Homo sapiens: one gene and its partner. The protein of the gene in region 1 purifies or fractionates together with the protein of each later gene. This does not show direct contact. Each region holds a gene or a part of one and is shown in the gene's direction. Other genes may lie near its edges.

What was found.
Region 2: the proteins of SPAG16 (region 1) and SETD5 purify together in Homo sapiens (affinity purification with mass spectrometry; one large-scale study listed by BioGRID and IntAct). This does not show direct contact.

The regions. Positions count from the first base shown.
Region 1 is NC_000002.12:213,924,263-213,928,087, forward strand, and holds part of SPAG16 (sperm-associated antigen 16 protein), read left to right. Parts: intron 1-3,825. UniProt on the Homo sapiens protein: Necessary for sperm flagellar function. Plays a role in motile ciliogenesis. May help to recruit STK36 to the cilium or apical surface of the cell to initiate subsequent steps of construction of the central pair apparatus of motile cilia.
Region 2 is NC_000003.12:9,470,305-9,474,129, forward strand, and holds part of SETD5 (histone-lysine N-methyltransferase SETD5), read left to right. Parts: intron 1-154; coding exon 155-625; intron 626-2,931; coding exon 2,932-3,233; intron 3,234-3,825.

The DNA.
Region 1 (3,825 bases):
TCTCTCCCTCAGTTTGGAAGCACAGCTGGGGGCCAGGCAGATTTTCCTACTCCCAGTCTTGTACAGGTCTCTGCAGAGAGCATGAATCTCCTGGGGAGCTCTCACTCTCTCACCCTTTCCCATTTTTGTAGAGGTTCTTCTGCGCCACATTGATCCCAGACAGATAGCTTTGCTCCTCTCTGTTCTCTGTGTTCTCCTGCTGCCTTCATGGATCCCAGCATGGTTTCTCAGATGATTGGCCTGCAGGGTCAGTGTTGACTAGCCTTTTAGTTCCTCTCTGTGAGAGCAGCACATACAAGCTGCTTCTCGTCTGCCATCTTGGCCCTATCCCTCATCTTTATTTTCATTTCCTTTGGCCTAGGTAACTTTTTTTGGTACTTTTTCATTTTGCTTTGCTTTGCTTTGCTTTGTTTACTCTCAATCTTTGTATCTCCTTAGAAGTTTAGTGTGCCTCGTGTAAAAATCATATAGCTGAATTTGTTTCTTTTTAGCCAAACTGAAAAATCTTTGTCTTTTATGTCTTTTAGCTTCCACTTTAGTCTATTTGTGTTTGTTGGATTTGTTCATATGTTTGTATTTCTATCTAAAAACTTATTTTTAAAATTCATTTTCTATTTGTATCATTTATTCTAGTGCTTTTTTCCTCCTTTCCTATTTTCTTTTAGATATATTAGATGTTTATAATTGTAAGTTTTTCTTACCCATTTCTTTTTTTCTTATACTGGTTTGGAAGTCATATGCTCTATTACTATTCTTATAGTGCTCACTCTTAACATTTTACCATGCTGACTGAATTTAGTAAAGCCTAAATTGATCAAGGTTTTACTTCTCTTCTTAATAGCACATGAACTTTATTAATACTATATCATTATTGTTTTTTTTTATTTTTACAAGCATTTTTGTTTTATTTTTGCAAGCATTTTATTTATCTACACAAATATTTCTATATACTTACATGTTTACCAAATTGTTTGCTCACTATTTCTTCCCTTTCAGATCTTCTGTCCCTAAAATATATCCTTAGTAATTTCTGTAGGAGAGGACTGCTTTGTTTAGTTGGAACATTAATACTTGTTCTTGTTTCTTTTCTTCCTTTTTTTTTTTTTTGAGGTGGAGTCTTGCTGTGTTGCCTAGGCTGGAGTGCAGTGTCACAATCTTGGCTCACTGCAACCTCTGCCTCCTGGGTTCAGGCAATTCTCCTGCCTCAGCCTTCCAAGTAGCTGGGGCTACATGTGTCCACTACCCTATCCGGCTAATTTTTGTATTTTTAGTAGGGATATGGTTTCACCATGTTGGCCAGGCTGGTCTCGAACTCCTGACCTCAAGTAATCTGTCTGCCTTGGCCTCCGAAGGTTCTGGAATTACAGACATGGGCCTCTATGCCCAGCCTTGTTCTTGTTTTGAGAGAGATTTTTGATAATTCCAGAGTAACATTATTTTCTATTAGCTCTTTGAAGAAATTTCACCCCTGTGACTTATTTTCTCTGTGATGTTGTTTAAGTGTTTTAGAGATAATGTAGTCATCTTATGAGTCATAGTGAAGATCAAATATATATAAAGAGCTTATTAGTGTTTCTAACACATATTTATCACTATATAAATAAATAACCTTATTTTTCTTTTTTCCCTCCTTTTTTTCTTATAATTCTTATTATTGCCAATGCTGCTCAGCAATTCACTAAAATGCATCTAAGTAAAAATTTCTTTTTATTGACACCACTGTTTATCCTGTTTGGTATACATTTTTCTTTCCAAACATGTGGTTCTAGGTCTTAAATTTTCTAGTTTCTGTACATTCTCAACCCTTAATTCTTTGAATGTTACATCTATCTTTTATTTCCATTCTCTTCTGGAATTTTGATTAGGAAAATATACTTTTTTATTGTATCCTTTATAATTTTAACCACCTATACTGTGTTCAGTTCCTCATCTGTCTATAGTTGGGATAATTTTTTCAAATATGTACTTTATTTATTTTTATTTTTTATTTCCATAGGTTTTTGCGGAACAGGTGGTGTTTGGTTACATGAGTAAGTTCTTTAGTGGTGATTTCTGAGATTTTGGTGCACCCATCACCCAAGCAGTATGCACTTTACCCAATCTGTAGTCTTTTACCCCTCGCCCCACTTCCATTCCACCCTTTCCTCCAAGTCCCCAAAGTCCATTGTATCATTCTTATGCCTTTGCAGCCTCGTAGCTTAACTCCCACCTGTGAGTGAGAACATATCATGTTTTTCATTTTTTTTCCGGATTTATTTCCCAATTCATTTACTCTGAATTTTGCTGTTTCTCATATGCTATTTAACCCATCCATTGATTTCTTAATTTCAATAATTTTATTTTTAAAATTTCTAAATATATATTTTTTTCAGATTTGCAGATTCATGTTATAACCTTACGTCGTTTGATCTTTTTATTGTAGCTGTTATTTCCTTATATACTTTACTTATAGTTATATTTTGTACCCTTTAATTATAACAACTAGTGTCCTTCAGGGTATTTGTTAATTTTATTAGCTCATCCTCAGTCATGGCTTCTTATTTCCCATTATGTGTTTGAGAATAATTTTGTAAGCTCATACTTGGTTGAATTTTATTTGCAGAATTTTGAGTAGCTAATTTCTAATAACTTGGGCTGTATACCAACAGCGTGGATCTACATTATTAGTCAGCTCAGTCTGCCATAACAAAATAACAGAGACTGGGTAGCTCAAATAACAGAAATTAATTTCTCACACTCCTGGAGCCTAGAAGTCTAAGACCAGAGTGCCAGCCTGATCAGGTTCTGGTGAGGGCCCCCTTCTTGCCTTGTAAATGGCTGCCTTCTTGCTGTGTCCTCACAATGCAGGGAGCGAGTTAACTCCAGTCTCTTTCTCTGATTATAAAGGCACTAATCGTATTACAGGGTTCCCGTGCTCATGACCTTGTCTAAACCTAGTTATTTCTCAGAGGCCCTACCTCCGAATACTGCCACATTGGAATTAGGGCATCAATGTACGGATCTGGGAAAGGAGTGGCACAGTCAGTCAGTCCATAACATTCACTTGTGCTCTTTTTGAGAGCTTTGGTTCCTTCTATTTGTGTGGAGCCCAGGGAAACTCTGATCTTTTGCATCTCTTAAAACACACTTTTTTGATTTTAGTGTACCATTCTTTTTCTCTCTCTTGATTTCTCTCAGCCCTCAGAAATGGCCTTTATTTTTTCATGAACCAAAGTTATACAGTTTTCCATATTTCAGGCCATGTTTTTGAAAGGCAAAACCATTTCAAAAGAATGTTCAGAAATTTATATTTGATATATTTTGGATTTAGTATATGAGCTCTGACTCTATATATTAAAAACTTATGGGAATATTGTTTATATTTATTGTTGACTAAATATCAGTTACAGCACTCACAAAGAAATAATACTGCTTCATTCTAGTTGTAATTATTCCAGTGTGATTTGTTTTTTTTGCCTGGCACATGGTTTAAAACACAAAATAAGCATATAAAACTTATATGAGAGGGTTTTTCAGCCACAGGCAGAAACATACCACAATAATTTTTATCCTATGCTAAGATTTTGGTCCATAATAACATGATACCCATTGGAAAGATAGATTTGAGAAAGAAGCATGCTTAAATAATTTTTAAATTTTTTTACATGCATGTTTTTGGATAAGTGTATTGTTCAATCTTTAATATTAAAAACTAAAATTCTGAATGACAAACATATGTGCAAACCAACTATTGTGGCAAAAACAGTTTTTGTTGGTGAAGGGACTAGCTGCCATTTGGTGATTTTTCAGATAGTCAAATTTGAAAAATCAATTGGATCTTCTCTT
Region 2 (3,825 bases), on another chromosome or scaffold:
CGTGGGACTTTTACAGAATATAATGGCTTTATCTGCTCTACTTCCGTCCCTCTTATCTTTCCCTGTTCACCTGTGTCCCTCTCCCCTCCTTTCTGCCCTTTGACTTTTTCCTTTCTCCCCTACCCCATGTCTCCGTTGATTTTTATTCTTTCAGCTTTGTCACCGAAAAGACCTGGATTTGGCAAAAGTAGGATACCTTGACTCCAACACTAACAGCTGTGCTGATAGACCTTCCCTACTCAACTCAGGTCATTCTGACCTGGCTCCTCATCCCTCCCTCGGACCCACTTCTGAGACTGGTTTCCCAAGCAGAAGTGGAGATGGACATCAGACCCTCGTGAGAAACTCAGACCAGGCATTTCGGACAGAGTTCAACTTGATGTATGCCTACTCCCCTTTGAATGCTATGCCTCGAGCAGATGGACTGTATCGAGGATCTCCTCTAGTGGGGGATAGGAAGCCTTTACATTTGGATGGGGGATATTGTTCCCCTGCAGAAGGATTTTCCAGCAGATATGAACATGGCTTAATGAAAGACCTCTCTCGTGGATCCTTGTCACCTGGTGGTGAAAGGGCCTGTGAAGGAGTCCCATCTGCCCCCCAGAACCCACCACAGAGGAAAAAAGTAAGTGTTTCATGTTATATCGGCGAACTTTTCAAGAATGTTAACCAAGTAGTTTAGTAGATATTCATAAGTTTCTGCTATGTGTTCCGCACTACTCTCAGACAAGTGAGACATAGTCTCTGCCAAATCCAGTGAAAGACAGGCTGTTTTAGTACAACTTGGTGAATGTTGTAAATATTCAGCAAATGTAAATGCCTGTATGTGCCATATACTTGCTAGGCAATTGAGAGGTTAGAACAGTGAAAAAGAAATTTTACCTATTATTTAGTGTGTCCCAAGTTCGAGGCACTGTATTAAGCTCTTTAAATGTGTTTTATCCTCACAGTAAGCCTATAAGATAGGCAATTTTCTATTTTGCACATGAGGAAACTAAGGCAAGTTGAGTAACTTTCCCGTGGTCACACAGCTAGTAAATGGAAGGACCAGGATACTACCCAGTTTGAGAGAGAAGGCTGGAGTGAGAGGCAGCAGGTTACTGATTTAACTGAATCTCAAACAATAAGTAGGAGTCAGCCAACCAACAATTGAGGGTGAGGTATGTTACAGTAGAGGGAGTAGAACAGGTAATTAGGTGGCACTCCATTGGCCAGGCAGCAGGCATGCAGTATGGTGCAAACAGTTGGATGTTGTTGTATCAGGTGGAAGGCCGGGGGAGCCAGGAGGAAAGTGCAGAGAGTGCTGGGCTGGGCCAGGCCATAGAGAGCTTGCTAATGGGTTGGGACTCCACTTCCAAGTAATGCCTGATCAAGAAGTCACAAAGCCAAAAATATGCTTTTGTATAAGTGGTTCTCAACTAGGGGTGTTTGAGAATGAGTAGGAGTGTTTTGAATTGTCCCAGTGACTTGCATTTATTGAGCAGGGCCAGGGATGCTGAATGTCCTGTATAGGGGACAGTCCCATGTAATGGCCAAACATCTGTAGTATCCTCATTGAAATGAAACCTAGTGGTTTTTTTATATTTTCATTATAATGATATTACCAGAATTTATTAACTTCTTTCCAAAATTATTTCTAGAAAATGCATATGCAAAACTGTCTATATTTTTGTTCCATTTGGACAGAAAAATGAGAACCCTAAGGGGATAGAAGGAGGAGGAAACATTGGCAGATAATTTGGATTAAGATAATAATTGATTTCGAAGATTGTTGCGTGAACAGCATTGACTACCAGAAACAAACATGAAAACAATCTTTGGATTTCTGGTTTTATAATATTTACTATGTGCAAAAGTCATAGAAATTATGATATTTTATTTCAGAAACACTTCTGAAATTTATTGGGCACATTTAAGCATAAATTTAAGCATATGCCAAATTCTGTGCTGGATGTTAAAGATAAAAAGCCAGATAAACTTGGCCTTTGCCTTCCTAGAACTTATAGTTTAGTCAGGGAGCAATCAAGGCATGGTAATAGGTTCTACGGCCTGTGTAAGCAATGTGCCAGAACAACAAAGAGAAGGTGTACTAGGCAGGGCACGGATTATGGTGGGCAGGGTGGGATGGGAGGTCTGCTGTCAGGAAAGAATGAGCAAGCATTAGGGAGATGAAGGGGAAGTTAGGGAGAAGTTACCAAGTTGTTTTCTAGAGCTAGCTTGCTAAAATTATAAACTGGAAATAATAATTTCCTCTCTTTTTACATTAATTACATCTATGTGTAAGACAGAAACAGTAATAAATTCCTATTTATATCTTGAAAATTTGAACATATTTAAGTATCCTGGAGCATTGGGTTTTTCTTCTGTTTTGTTTTGTTTTTCCTTCTCTCTCTCCCTCTCTCTCTCCACCTACCTCTCCCCACCTCCCTCTCCTCCATCTCCTTCTCCTCTCCCTGCTTCTTTCTCTCAAACAGCTAACTCTAGGGGTTCCCAAGGAGTACAGAACAGCCATCAGTCACCTGGGAGGCTTTTTAAACTATACAAGCTTCCAATTCTCCCTTCTCTAGGTACTTCCATTGTTGCAAATAACTGTGATAGCATGCTTCTGTTACTGTGTAATGGTAACCTCACAAGTTTTTCTGAAGGCAGAAAAAAAGATGGTGGTCTAATTGGCAAACATTCTTTAGAGACTTGCCTCCTAGTTTATTATCTTCCTCTTACCAATTTCCAGCTGCCTTAAATATGTAGCTGTGCTCAGATCTCTTTCATACTCCCCAAAAAAAGTTATCAGGGTTGGTGTCTGCTTTGTTTGCGTGGCTTGGCTAGTGGTTTACTAAGGTACCATCTTTCCTTCTTTCCCTGTTGCTGGTGATCCACTAATGATATCCAGATAGAGTACCGTTTTTTGTTTGTTTGTTTTTTCCTTTCTAGGTATCCCTGCTGGAGTACCGAAAACGGAAACAAGAAGCTAAGGAAAATTCTGCTGGTGGGGGAGGTGACTCTGCACAGAGCAAAAGCAAGTCTGCAGGAGCTGGGCAAGGCAGCAGTAACTCCGTTTCCGACACTGGTGCCCATGGTGTGCAGGGATCCTCAGCCCGAACTCCATCTTCCCCTCACAAAAAATTCTCCCCATCTCATTCCTCTATGTCCCATTTGGAGGCGGTAAGCCCATCAGATTCCAGAGGCACTTCTTCATCTCACTGCAGACCTCAAGAGAATATCAGCAGTAGGTGGTAAGTTTATATTTGATGTTTTATAGTTAAATTGGGGGTGGGGGGGAGTATATATCTAAGATCATTCCCAGTTTTACCTAAAATCTATGGGAACACTTGATGGGAACATCTGAGACAGCCAGCCAACAGTACCATCTGTCCTGTTCAGCTGATTTAATAATGTCAGCTGCAACCCCCCAGCTTTGCAGAATTAAGAATTACCAACATGCCTGTGGAGCAGTGCTTTGGATGACATGTAGTTATGGATGCAGATGAGCTCTTTCATTTGGTGGGCACTAACACTGCCTTTCCTATTTCTCATTTCACATGAAAGGTGAGTCAAGAATCCAGCCAAGTTCCACATGAATTAACAACAGATGTCTCTCTTCCACACAGCTAGCATATACAGAGCAAAAAGACATTCTGAAAGGATTTGTCTGGTTTAGGGGAGACCACAAATTTAAAAATGAATAATACTGGTGGCAAATACTGAGGATCAAATGTGTGAAATAGAGAATGAAGCACAGGAGTTCAGGGATCTTGAACTGAAAAAAATAAGTCTGGGAAAGAACAGTCCTGGCTCAAATGTTTCATGTTCATTAATCTATGAAAC